Regions from separate parts of the Homo sapiens genome. Here region 1 is linked to region 2. Evidence: fine-mapped expression QTL. A gene starts in region 2. The other region holds a variant in brackets. All regions are shown on one strand. Distances are between the middles of the regions. Region 1 holds the start of LOC105379091 (a long non-coding RNA gene). Region 2 holds the start of ELL2 (elongation factor for RNA polymerase II 2).

Region 1 (5,381 bases), 100 kb after region 2:
TACGTTGTGAAATCCACCTACTCTGGAGCACTTGCCGGGGCTGTCCCTTTATAGTTTGGCCCTTGGCTGGGCAGTCATGCTACCCTCCAGTGAGAGCTGTCCCCAGCCTTGCATTTACATTCTCCCAAATGCCCACCTCCATAGCTGCCCTTCTTCATCTACCCCACCTTGCCAGATGTGCTTAGGAAGCTAACAGGCAGACCACGTACATACTTAGGGCAGCAGCAATTCACAGAAGAAAAGGAAAAATTAAACATATTTTAATCAACCAGGTGGTTACCATGGGAGAAATTTTTATATTTATGTTGTGGCTTTGAATAGCTTTCATTTTGAAGATGGGGTAGCAGAAAACGAATCTTAATATCTTTGATTCATGGAGACTTTAAAGGTCTTTATCAGGTACTGCTTTCTAGAGTTCTACAGACTGATTTTTGCTCCTCCCTGCTTCCCAGTGAATCTTGTACCCCAAGTTGATGTGACTCAGGAGTTAAATCCTGCTGGAAATCTGGAACTTGTCAAGCCTTGATCTGCCTTAACATGAACTATTTAGCTCCTATTGTTCCACCCTTGCATGACCCCAATTAAGGCAATAATAGAACCCAGTACTTTCAGAGTCTTTAAAGCCAAATGATAAAGCTTTATTCCTTAGTTTTGTGGTAGTTTGGAATCTTCATTTTCATGGAGTTGATGAACACTAAGTATTTACTCTCTTCACATATGCAAAAAAAAATTGTATGACCCCAATCTCTCCTGTCTTCTAAAAGACTTAAGTGCGTATTTTCACTAGATCCTACATAGACCCACTATATAAAATGGGCATTGATATTTTTATTTTTAAGACCTAGTAGGTGCTATGTAACCAAATTCTCCTAAATTGTAAGATGGAGTTGACACACCAAGGCAGAAGCACCTGTGGACATTACGCCCATAGGAGTCAACTTGGGTGGGTACATGGTTGCTGCGCTGGTTGGACCATTTCTGCTCTAAGTCACACCAGATGAGGTTGAGAAGGTTAGGAGTTGACTTAGCAGCTGTTAGTTACTACCAAATGCTGTGTGAGCACTAGATCTCAAAAAACTTTGAAATATATATGTGTGTATATATACATGTATGTATATAGTTGTGTGTATATGTATATGTATATATACAGTGTATATATACATATTTGCACACAAAATAAACCAGGTAGACAGTGTACATCTCTTAAAGGAATTACAACAGCACTTCACAATAAAATTTTAAAAACTATATTGCCCACAGCATTTAAAATATAGTGTAGGTATTTTTGACAGCTTTATGAAGTTTTAGAAAAAATAAAACTATATGCAGAAGACCTAATGATTTGATTTACAATGCCAATTTTAAAATTATATTTTCAGAGTTCAAACAACCAATACATACCCTCACCCCCAGCGCCCCAGGTATCCTTTCCTTGGTAACCTCATGCTGGGCAAGAACAAAGGGACTGAAGTGGCAAGATCTACTCCACAGTCTGTGCCTACTCCTTCTCCTTCTACCCTGACAGGAAGAAATCATGGGGCCTGAGATTTCTGTAAACATGAGGCTCTTGCTCAATGCTCTGGGGAACATAAACCCCAAGCCCTGGCAGAGGGGAAATCTCCTCCCACTTTCTAAAACTAGACAGTCGGGCCTAATATGAACCATGGAGTTCAGCAGCACCAGAGCGATCCTGAGTGGTCACAGTGTGTCCACATCAAATCGAAACACACAGGCAATTTGGGTACATTTCCCCTGCCAGTTTAGGATGGAAATGAGAGTTGGAAGAAAGGTCTCAGGAGCCCCAACCTTTTACCCTCCAGGTCACTGGTCACCTCCTTAGGACCTCCAGGACAAACTGCTCCTCTCTGTGGTGTGGGATTTGCTTGCGGAGACAACACGTTTGTTTAGCCTTACACATGAATGCAGAGCATATGGAGAAGTAAACCTCACTGACCACTGCTTCCCCAAGTGACTTCTCTCCCACGCCCCTCATGGAAAGCCCTACAAAGGAAAAATCAATCTTCTCAGCTTTAAACCTGCCTTCTGTCCTCGTCAGATGTTGCCAAGCACGAAGTGTTACGGGGGCTCCTATCACAAAGCAAACAGAGCTGGAGCAGCCGGAAGGAGAGCTGCTCTCTAAAAGCTTTTAAACACTGTTATATTTTTAAAACCACTTACTGAAGAGGTGAGTTATTTTCTACTCCTCCTTCCCCAGAAGCACAGACATTAAGGTTACCTAGAAACTTGTCCAGGAAGCATGTGGCAAATAACAACCATGCAATAGAAACATCCGGATTTGTCATCTAATAGGAGATGGTATCAGCAAGGTCATATTTGGATAGAGGTGGAAGATGAAACTTCATTAGCTTGCATGCCCCAGCTACTGGGGGGCCATTCCCATGTGCTCTGGAGGAGGGAGACTTTGCTTTTATCTTGGCTGGGAGGGCCTTTGATTGGTACAGGTTGGAAATGAGTAAGATCTGAGATTGACGCTTCTTGTACTGAAGACTGCCTGTGGGAATAAAAAGCAGAGGGAGAATAAAAAGACATGAGATGGGGTCGCCTCTACCCTGGAAGAACATCTAATCTGTAGGATGGA[C/T]GAGATGGGATGTACACAGAGAATGACCTGAGAACAAAATTGTTTTTTTAAGTTTCAGAAGCAAAATAATATTCCGTGAAGGACCAGAAGGGGGACAGGAAGACTTCTTAGTGAAGGTGGTTTTAAATCAGGTCTTGAGAGACAGTGAGAACAGCAGAGAATATGGGAGAGAAGGGATGGGGTGGCTGGCATGGTTCTGTTAGCGAGTCACATGTGCTGAGGACATGGATGTGGTGCTGTTTACTTTGATATTTCATTTCCATTATTGTAGGAGAAGGAAAGGGAGATGACGCCTCTTTATTTTTATAACTTTAGCTCCAGACTTTCTAAAAAAAAGTCTTCATTTCATGAAGGCAGTTTTGCTGTTTCCAAAGAGCTTATTCCTAATGCGTATTTCCAACCAACACCCTCTCTGTGTCAGATGAGGTGATAACATTTGTAATTGCAGAGAAGCAGAAAAGTGTGACTCACCTGTTTCACCACGAAGACTTTGCCGCAGACGTGGGGTTTAGGGAGATTCAGCTGGTATGAAAAAAGCAGCAGGAGCAATGGGCCACTGGGAAAAATGGTCTAGGGATCTTTGCTGCACCCAGTTTCCTCTTGCTTTATCCCAGAATATACCCTTTTTCCAATTCATCATAAAGAAGGGGGACTAGTGAAACTCAGGAATTCTGGAAGTTAAGCTATCTGCAAACTTATTCTGAGGAATCAGTGCAAACACACAGGGCCAGCTATGGGACAATGCCTGGGCTTTCTACACTGACTTCTTTCCATTCGATGGTCATCAGTTTTATCAGGGGCATCAGGGCTTCTGTGTAAGTCACTAAAACATGGCCGAAGGTACTTGAGCAACCACAAAAAAATTTGACGCTAAAAATATAGGCAGGAAATCTCCACATGCAAACAATTCTCAGGAAGAGGAGAGGGGTGCGTCATAAAAGTCCGGCTGACATTCTACACTCCTCTCAAATTACATGCAGCCAGTGCCGTCGGCCTGAAAATATTGAGCAATATTCCAGCCGTCCTCTTGTCACATGTACTTCATGAATGCTGGGCTCATCAGGCAGAAGCACCCAGGCATCAAAACACTCGCCTGAGAATTGAGGAACGTGGCCACCGTCTTCTTGGCGAGACCTCGACTGTAGGAAGCACCTGACCTCAGCTCCTCTGAAAATGGAATGAAGCATTTTACAGATCTGTACCTGGTCTTCCCCAGTCACTTCAAAAAGGATAAGAGGCAGGAGTTTAAAGTATGAGTTGGAAGTTGAAAGATTTAGTGGCCCTTCTGACATCCCATGGTCTCAGGAAATTCAGTTAAGCTCTCTGCGAGTTTCCATTTCCCCATCGCTGAAATGATGTGAATTCATGCTACCTATTCGGCGGATATTAAAATGCAATAGACCTAGGCATTGTTCTATGTATGGGAGAGTGTATGTGTATTGATAACTATTGTTTTCTTTTCCAGACTTACTGTTCTCACTACCCTGATGTATCCAGATCAGTTAAAACCTATTACTTAGCAAAGTTTCAGTTTGAATTTGTGTCCTCTCACACACACATAAAACACATACACACACACACTCAAAAAGGATCAGAATTCTTTTTTCTTTTCTTTTTTTTTTTTTTGAGACTGAGTCTCGCCCAGGCTGGAGTGCAGTGGTACAATCTCGGCTCACTGCAATTTTTGCCTCCCAGGTTCAAGCGATTCTCCTGTTTCAGCCTCCTGAGTAGCTGGGATTACAAGCACCTGCCACCATGCCCGGCTAATTTTTGTATTTTTAGTAGAGATGGGGTTTCGCCATGTTGGCCAGGCTGGTCTCAAACTCCTGACCTCAGATGATTCACCCGCCTGGGCCTCCCAAAGGGCTGGGATTACAGGCATGAGCCACCGCGCCCGGCCAGAATTCTTTTTTTTCCTTTCAACTACAATATGTTTTTCTGAGTGAGGAAGAAAGAGAATTTACATCACAAGGCAAAAAATACTCATAATATTGCATGCATCCATGGGAGAATATATTACAATACGAGCACCATTTTCCCTGGGTGCCAGGGGTGGGGCAGTTTAGCTGGAAAAGCTAAATTCTGCTCCACTTGGATTGAAAACGTTCAGATGTTTTGTTTATGTGTTTGCTTTCTTGCTTATTCACCTACGACATCTAATCCTTTAGTCTGAATAGTATCCAGTGAATACACTCCTGTCCCTCTCCTCAGTCCTCACCCAAATGCAGTAAAGCAAGAGATCAGCAGGGCAGCCAGAGAGCCCACACCAGTGAGGCCAGGAAAGAAAACAGAGCTCAAGAGGGTCCACATGAAGGTTTCCTTCCTTATCTAGTCCCCAGAGGCTTTTTTTTCTAAGTAAAACTCCCAAAGAACTAAAAACAAAGGAAACACAAAAAATTCAACGTGGTATAGAAATTTCGGTAGAAGAACTTTTATTGAACAGTAAGATTCAAGATTTCACCAGGTGAGAGGGGGAATTGAAAATTAGTAGAAAAATTCCAAGGGGACCAGTTAGCCACAACAAAGAATGGGGTTCAGGGAACTTCTTAGGGATGTATCTTCCCCTCAATACAGGTAGAGGAGCAGCATCAGAAGCAGGGCGTTGGAGAGAGGCATAGAAGAGAATCACCTTCTCCTGGCCCACGCAAGCTACCTGGTGTACCTTCAAGTTCAGGCCAGCTGCTGTTCCTGCCCGCTCTTGGAGATGAAAAGGTTTCCCATGCCCCCACCTCCTCCCGAGTTAATTCTCTCCAGGTGCTTCTCTTGATGTAAACCCAGGGTG
Region 2 (5,348 bases):
CCTGGTTATGTTAGGCAGGTTGCTTTTAAATAAATGGGGGTCTCAGTTCCTCCTTCATAAAACTAATGTGTCCACCTGGAATCATCATGAAGATCATTTTTAGTTGGGCTGTCTCCATCTATACCACCTCCAACTTATCTAGAATCTACTCAACCCTCAAGAGCTGTTCAAGTTCTATCACCTCCATTAAACCTCTTCAGACTTCTCCTTTCTTTGAATTTTTGAGCTTATCACCAACACCGTCCAAATTAGCATTTACTAATTTTCTAATTGCTTTGCTTTGACTATACTGGTTCACTTGCCACACTGAAACAGAAAATTCCTCTAGAGACTTTACAGTTTAATTTTTAAATCCTCTACCGCATGTTATACTTAACTGGTATTCAATGATTATTTAATTATTTAAACCAGATAAAGATACAGAAAATATGTATAAAATGGCAACCTTCCCAAAAAGCACCTTTCATCAGCCTCCTCAAAATAAATTATCCTAACCAGCATCATAACTTGACCATCTGATTCAGGCAGGCGTAATGTGTACTATGCCTGTGAGACATCAATGAAAAGACACTGCTAGATTACCATATTACTTTGTACTTGATCATTTCCTCCTTCCACAGTTGAAAAGCTCAAAAGGGGAAAAATACAAACAACCATTAACTCACTACAATAATATATTAATCCGTGAAAGATTTGTTACCCACTAAAATAGGGCATGAGAAAAATTTTCCTATTATAATTTTTAAAAAAAGTCAATTACTAGTAAGAAGCTACAGGTCAGATATTTGAAAACTACAACGAAAACCATCCTTACTCCTCCCCCACCCGCTTGGATGTCATCAGAAATTCTGAGTAAGAGTAGGCCAAGTTAGGATATCATGTGGGTGGGGATTTACCCACATTCACCGGAAAAGCAGTGGGATACAGGTTTTACTTGTTCCGGTCAAACCTCCCTTCCCCCTCACCTCCCAAATAATTAAGGCTTTAGCTATGTGCTCAGTCCTTTACTATCAAAAAAAAAAAAAAAAAAAGAGAGAGAGAAAAGAAAAGTTCAAGTACAGAATTATTTTTAGATTATAGTCCGCTTAGAGATGAACTATTTGAATAAGGTTTCTACTTTTGGAAAGCGGAGAAAACTAGGTAGTAAAGCCTCTATTTCCCTTCTAAGAGTAAACTTTTTAATCCAATTTGATGATTACCTTAATATCTCTACTACATGAATTTAAGATAACACTGTATCACTAAAGTAAATGAAATTAGCAAGCGTTAATCACGTCTTAACAGCTAGCCAATCTTAGTGGATTGAAATTAAGTCAATTTACAAACTGTTTTCCTGTGATGGAGTAACACTTAATACAGGTGTTTCCACTTAATCCAATTCATTCTGTAATTCACATTATACACCTACTATGTTTGAAGGTCTGAATCAAAAAGGAGTGTACCCGTACGGTGGGGAAGGCATTTATTGGGAGGGGAGGACATGGAATCATGGCCCTAATCCATTTAAAATAATGAAAAATACTGATTAAATATCTATAAACTTTCCCGGGGAATCCCAGTAGAACAGAACATGGTTTTATAAGCTGAGGGTAAAAACAAGCGTCTCAGTTTTTTTATTAAAAGAACTTTTTTAAACTGCCTTTCAACAGTTTGAAAGCTTTCAATGGTTTGTTTTATCTGGTGTTTCTGATCAACCAATTAATCCATCCTCTGACAGGAACCCATCTGTCAGTCTATCCACACACAATCTGAAAGGGACTCCAGATTAGGCTCCCTCTTTTAGCCACGCCTACACAGGAAGCATCCTGTGGATGGAATGGAAAGTATGCCAGGCCTTTGCACGCCCCTCACGCCCCCATCTCCTTCGCTTAACCTCGACAGCCTCTTACCTTTAAACCCTAGCTAGGTTTTCACACAGCCCTATCAAATAAAAAGGACAATACTCAAACTGAATTAGAGAATGAGAATTGTCGAGGTTTCTTTTAATTTAGATCAATGCCAGTTTTACTCTTCTTCTAGAGTCCTTTTTAAGGAGATATCATCCCCACCAGTTGTGATCCCAGAGAATCACAACAGGGCATGGCGTAGGAAAGACCTCGAAGCTCAATTCTCTATTATACCATGCCCACCATACGAAAGGCATTTAACCTCCCGCGTGATTTTGTCCTTAAGATGCTCCACAAGATCTAACACAACTCCTACATCTAAGAGTCGACTCACTAATTTCAAGGGTTTTTGTTTTTGTTTTTGTTTTTATAAGCTCTGCGTGTGGCACCCGATAACTTCAAGTTTAGAGTGAGCAGTTTCCTCCCAATGCCGTTTGCTCAACTACAGTACTAGGAGTTTTGAGGAGCAGCTCTCTAGCGAGTCCTCCTGCTGCGTCCTCCCCCACACGCACGCACCAAGTTCCACAGCTTCCGCAGCCGTCGGGGAACAAAGTCCTTATTTGGTCACGGCCATCCCCTTACATAGTGGAGGTGGAGATCCTCCTCTCCAAGGACCACCCGCGTAGGGCGAGATTCCCCAATTCTGACTTTTCACTACTATCCCCCACAGGGGCGGGGCTCCAACTCCAGGTAACCAGACCAGGCAACCTGGACTTCCAATTAGCAGGGGAGTCCCCAAGCCAGCCTGGCCAATCTCGGCCGGCTAGCCAAGACGACCAGACGTGACGTCAGACATGATTAAGTTGGCGCGTCACCTAGACGTCAGCCTCTTACCTCTCGGACGTCCCGTCCCAGGAGCAAAACTCTAGTGACTTTGGGCCCGCCCCCGTGAGAGTGGAGGGCGGCCGATGAGGGCGGTTCTGAAGGGAACAAGACCAATGAGACGAGCCCGGGGCGGGGCGCGGGGCCGGAGGGTGGGGCGGGTGGCGGCGGTGGCAGTCCGAGGTCTGGCTCCGCGCAGTATATGACAGTACGTCAGCAGCGGGATGGCCCTAGCAGTGGCGGCGGCTGCAGAAGCCCAAGCAGCCGCGGCCGCAGTGGAGGCTAGAGCCGGAGCGGCGGCGGCGGCGGCACCCCGGGGAGTTTAAGATGGCGGCGGGGGGGACAGGGGGCCTGCGGGAGGAGCAGCGCTATGGGCTGTCGTGCGGACGGCTGGGGCAGGACAACATCACCGTACTGCATGTGAAGCTCACCGAGACGGCGATCCGGGCGCTCGAGACTTACCAGAGCCACAAGGTGAGCGGGCCGGCCGGCAGGCTGGGCTCAGAGAGGCAGAGCGCACCCCTCACGGCCTGGCCGCGCCCGGGTGCGGGGCCGGCGGAGCCGTGGCTGGCAGCTGCTACCGTCAGCGCCCGCAGCGGCCAGGCAGGGCAGGGCCGGGCAGGGTGGCTGACGCCGCGGTCCCGGGCTAGCCTGGGCGTTGGGGAAGCGGGCAGTCGGGCGGCCCCTGGCGGCGGGGCCGAGGCAGCCGCAGCCCTGGGTCGGCTGCGCTGCCGCTGCGGGACTTTCCGACGGCCCCCGAGGATTTCCTGGCTTGTTGGGTCCCAAGGAGGGAGAGAGGCCCCGATAAGAGAAGTGAGATGACCACGCTACCCTCGGCGGGGAAGGAGGGTAGCGAGCAGCGTATGGGCAAGGAACCAGGGACGACTCGCGGGCACCAGCTGCCCGCGTTTTCCAGTTACATAGGCACGGTGGATCCTCAGAGACAGGACACAGGCGCTCCGCGTGTGGGGGTGGGACCTTGTATTCCCAGGGACTTGGGGACACAGGCGCTCCACGTATCAGGGGACACACTGTGTGCTCGAAGGGATGGGGACTCGGGCGCATGGTGAGGGGCACACGGTGTACTCATAGAGATAGGGACTTAGGCAGTCCGTGTAAGGGGGCGGCGCACACTGGAACGGCGGGGACACTGGCGCTTCGCGTACGGGGGGGGAGGGGACACACCTGCATTCCCAGGGACTCCGGGACACCGGCGCATCGCGTTACTGGAGACGCGCCGCGTCCAGGACGGACACAAACCAACACAGTGCCCTGGGGAGAGACCTGAGGACTCACGCACACTTAGCGCTCCCCGGGAGCAAGACATCGGGTTCTGGAGAGAGAGGTTCACGGACGCTCAACGTACCCGAAAAAGCTCCCGGCGTCTTGGGCTGACTCTGGGAAGTGTAAACGGGGAACGAGCCAGAGCCAGAAGGTGTGGGGAGGATACAATGCATCCCGGGCAGAGACTCGGGCCTCTCACCCCTCGTTTTCGAGAGAAGCCCATGGACACACACACACACATATACACACACACCCCTCCAGTACAGAGAGAGGCTCAGATAGGCGCACATACACTGTAATTGGACTACAAATCCAGACGCTTTCATGTTGGAAAAAAAATGGGAGAGACAGGGAAGCACCGAGAAGGGACGCGGTAACCAGGGTGCATGGGGAAACAGTTTATGGACATGCAGTACTGTGGGAGACCGGAGTGGATACATCGCGTGAGGGAGGGATATGCCATATGGGGGAACCTGTAACGTTTTACAGGAGAGGAGAGAGTCGGAAGGGAGATAGAACCCACGGGGCATCTTACAAATAGCCCGTTCGGTACTGAGGAACACACTCCAACCGGTCTCGTACAACAGACAGAGGGGCAGAAGGACACCGAGACACAGATTCACATAGTTATTCAGCTAAAAGTGGGGAAAAGAATTGACATCTGTTGAGCTCCCACTAGTGCCAGGCACTTTAAATACATAGAGCGAAGGCAGAGTCTGAGGCAGAGCGGCAGGAGAGGTGTGAACCCTGGTTTACTGGGAGTGTATTCAGAGAGCCCCCCCACCCCATAAGTGTGCACACAGAGGAAGGCATTAGTTGTGCACGCTTTGGATAGAAAATGAACTCACATGATAGGGTATTTGTAAACAGCAGTGGAGGCTCAGAGGTGAGTGTATTGTTAGGAAGGTACTCACAGAATTGGGTGGACACATGAATGTACGTGCTAGGACACTTGTGTTACTAACCAGAGAAGCATATGGTGAAAAGGACTCACAGACTTTGTGTGGTGGGGTGAGGGGGCGTCAGGGAGGAGTGCATGCACAGGGAGAAAGGTACCGTCCTACATACAGTGAAATCTCGAGAGAAAATCTCAAGAATGGCTGGGAGAGATACAAGAAATAGAAAACTGCATGTGCCAATAGCTACTCTTAGATAGGTGCACCTGCAGTGAAGAGACCAGCATCAGACGGAGTGGGAGGCCCATATGGGGGAAGCCAGAAACACAGGCAGAGGGACAGAAGCAGACAGTGGAGAGAAACTCTGGAGAGAAACTCAGCCTTGCAAGATGGAAAGATAAGCTTGCCTGTTCCAAGGGAAGGGCGTGGGAAGGAATGGCAGTGGGAAGAAGGTAGGTCT

The links. PIP is the estimated chance that this variant, and not a neighbour inherited with it, causes the effect.
Region 1: its variant is fine-mapped to the expression of ELL2 in whole blood (TOPMed, PIP 0.90).

What each region holds. Positions count from the first base shown.
Region 1 is chr5:95,859,767-95,865,147 of GRCh38, reverse strand. LINC01554 (long intergenic non-protein coding RNA 1554) reads right to left here. Exons shown (of 3, transcript NR_026936.1): 3 at 5,015-5,381. LOC105379091 (a long non-coding RNA gene) reads right to left here and starts at 3,364. Exons shown (of 3, transcript XR_001742813.2): 1 at 1,402-3,364. RefSeq lists enhancers at 1,224-1,725, 1,981-3,180. The variant C/T (reference allele first, on the strand shown) is at 2,600.
Region 2 is chr5:95,959,409-95,964,756 of GRCh38, reverse strand. It overlaps ELL2 (elongation factor for RNA polymerase II 2), which reads left to right and starts at 2,906. Exons shown (of 12, transcript NM_012081.6): 1 at 2,906-3,182. The coding sequence starts at 3,036. LOC101929710 (a long non-coding RNA gene) reads right to left here and starts at 2,756. Exons shown (of 5, transcript NR_130776.1): 1 at 2,721-2,756. It also overlaps a transcript of CAST not described here. RefSeq lists silencers at 2,350-2,817, 2,773-3,012, 3,083-3,492 and an enhancer at 2,297-3,054.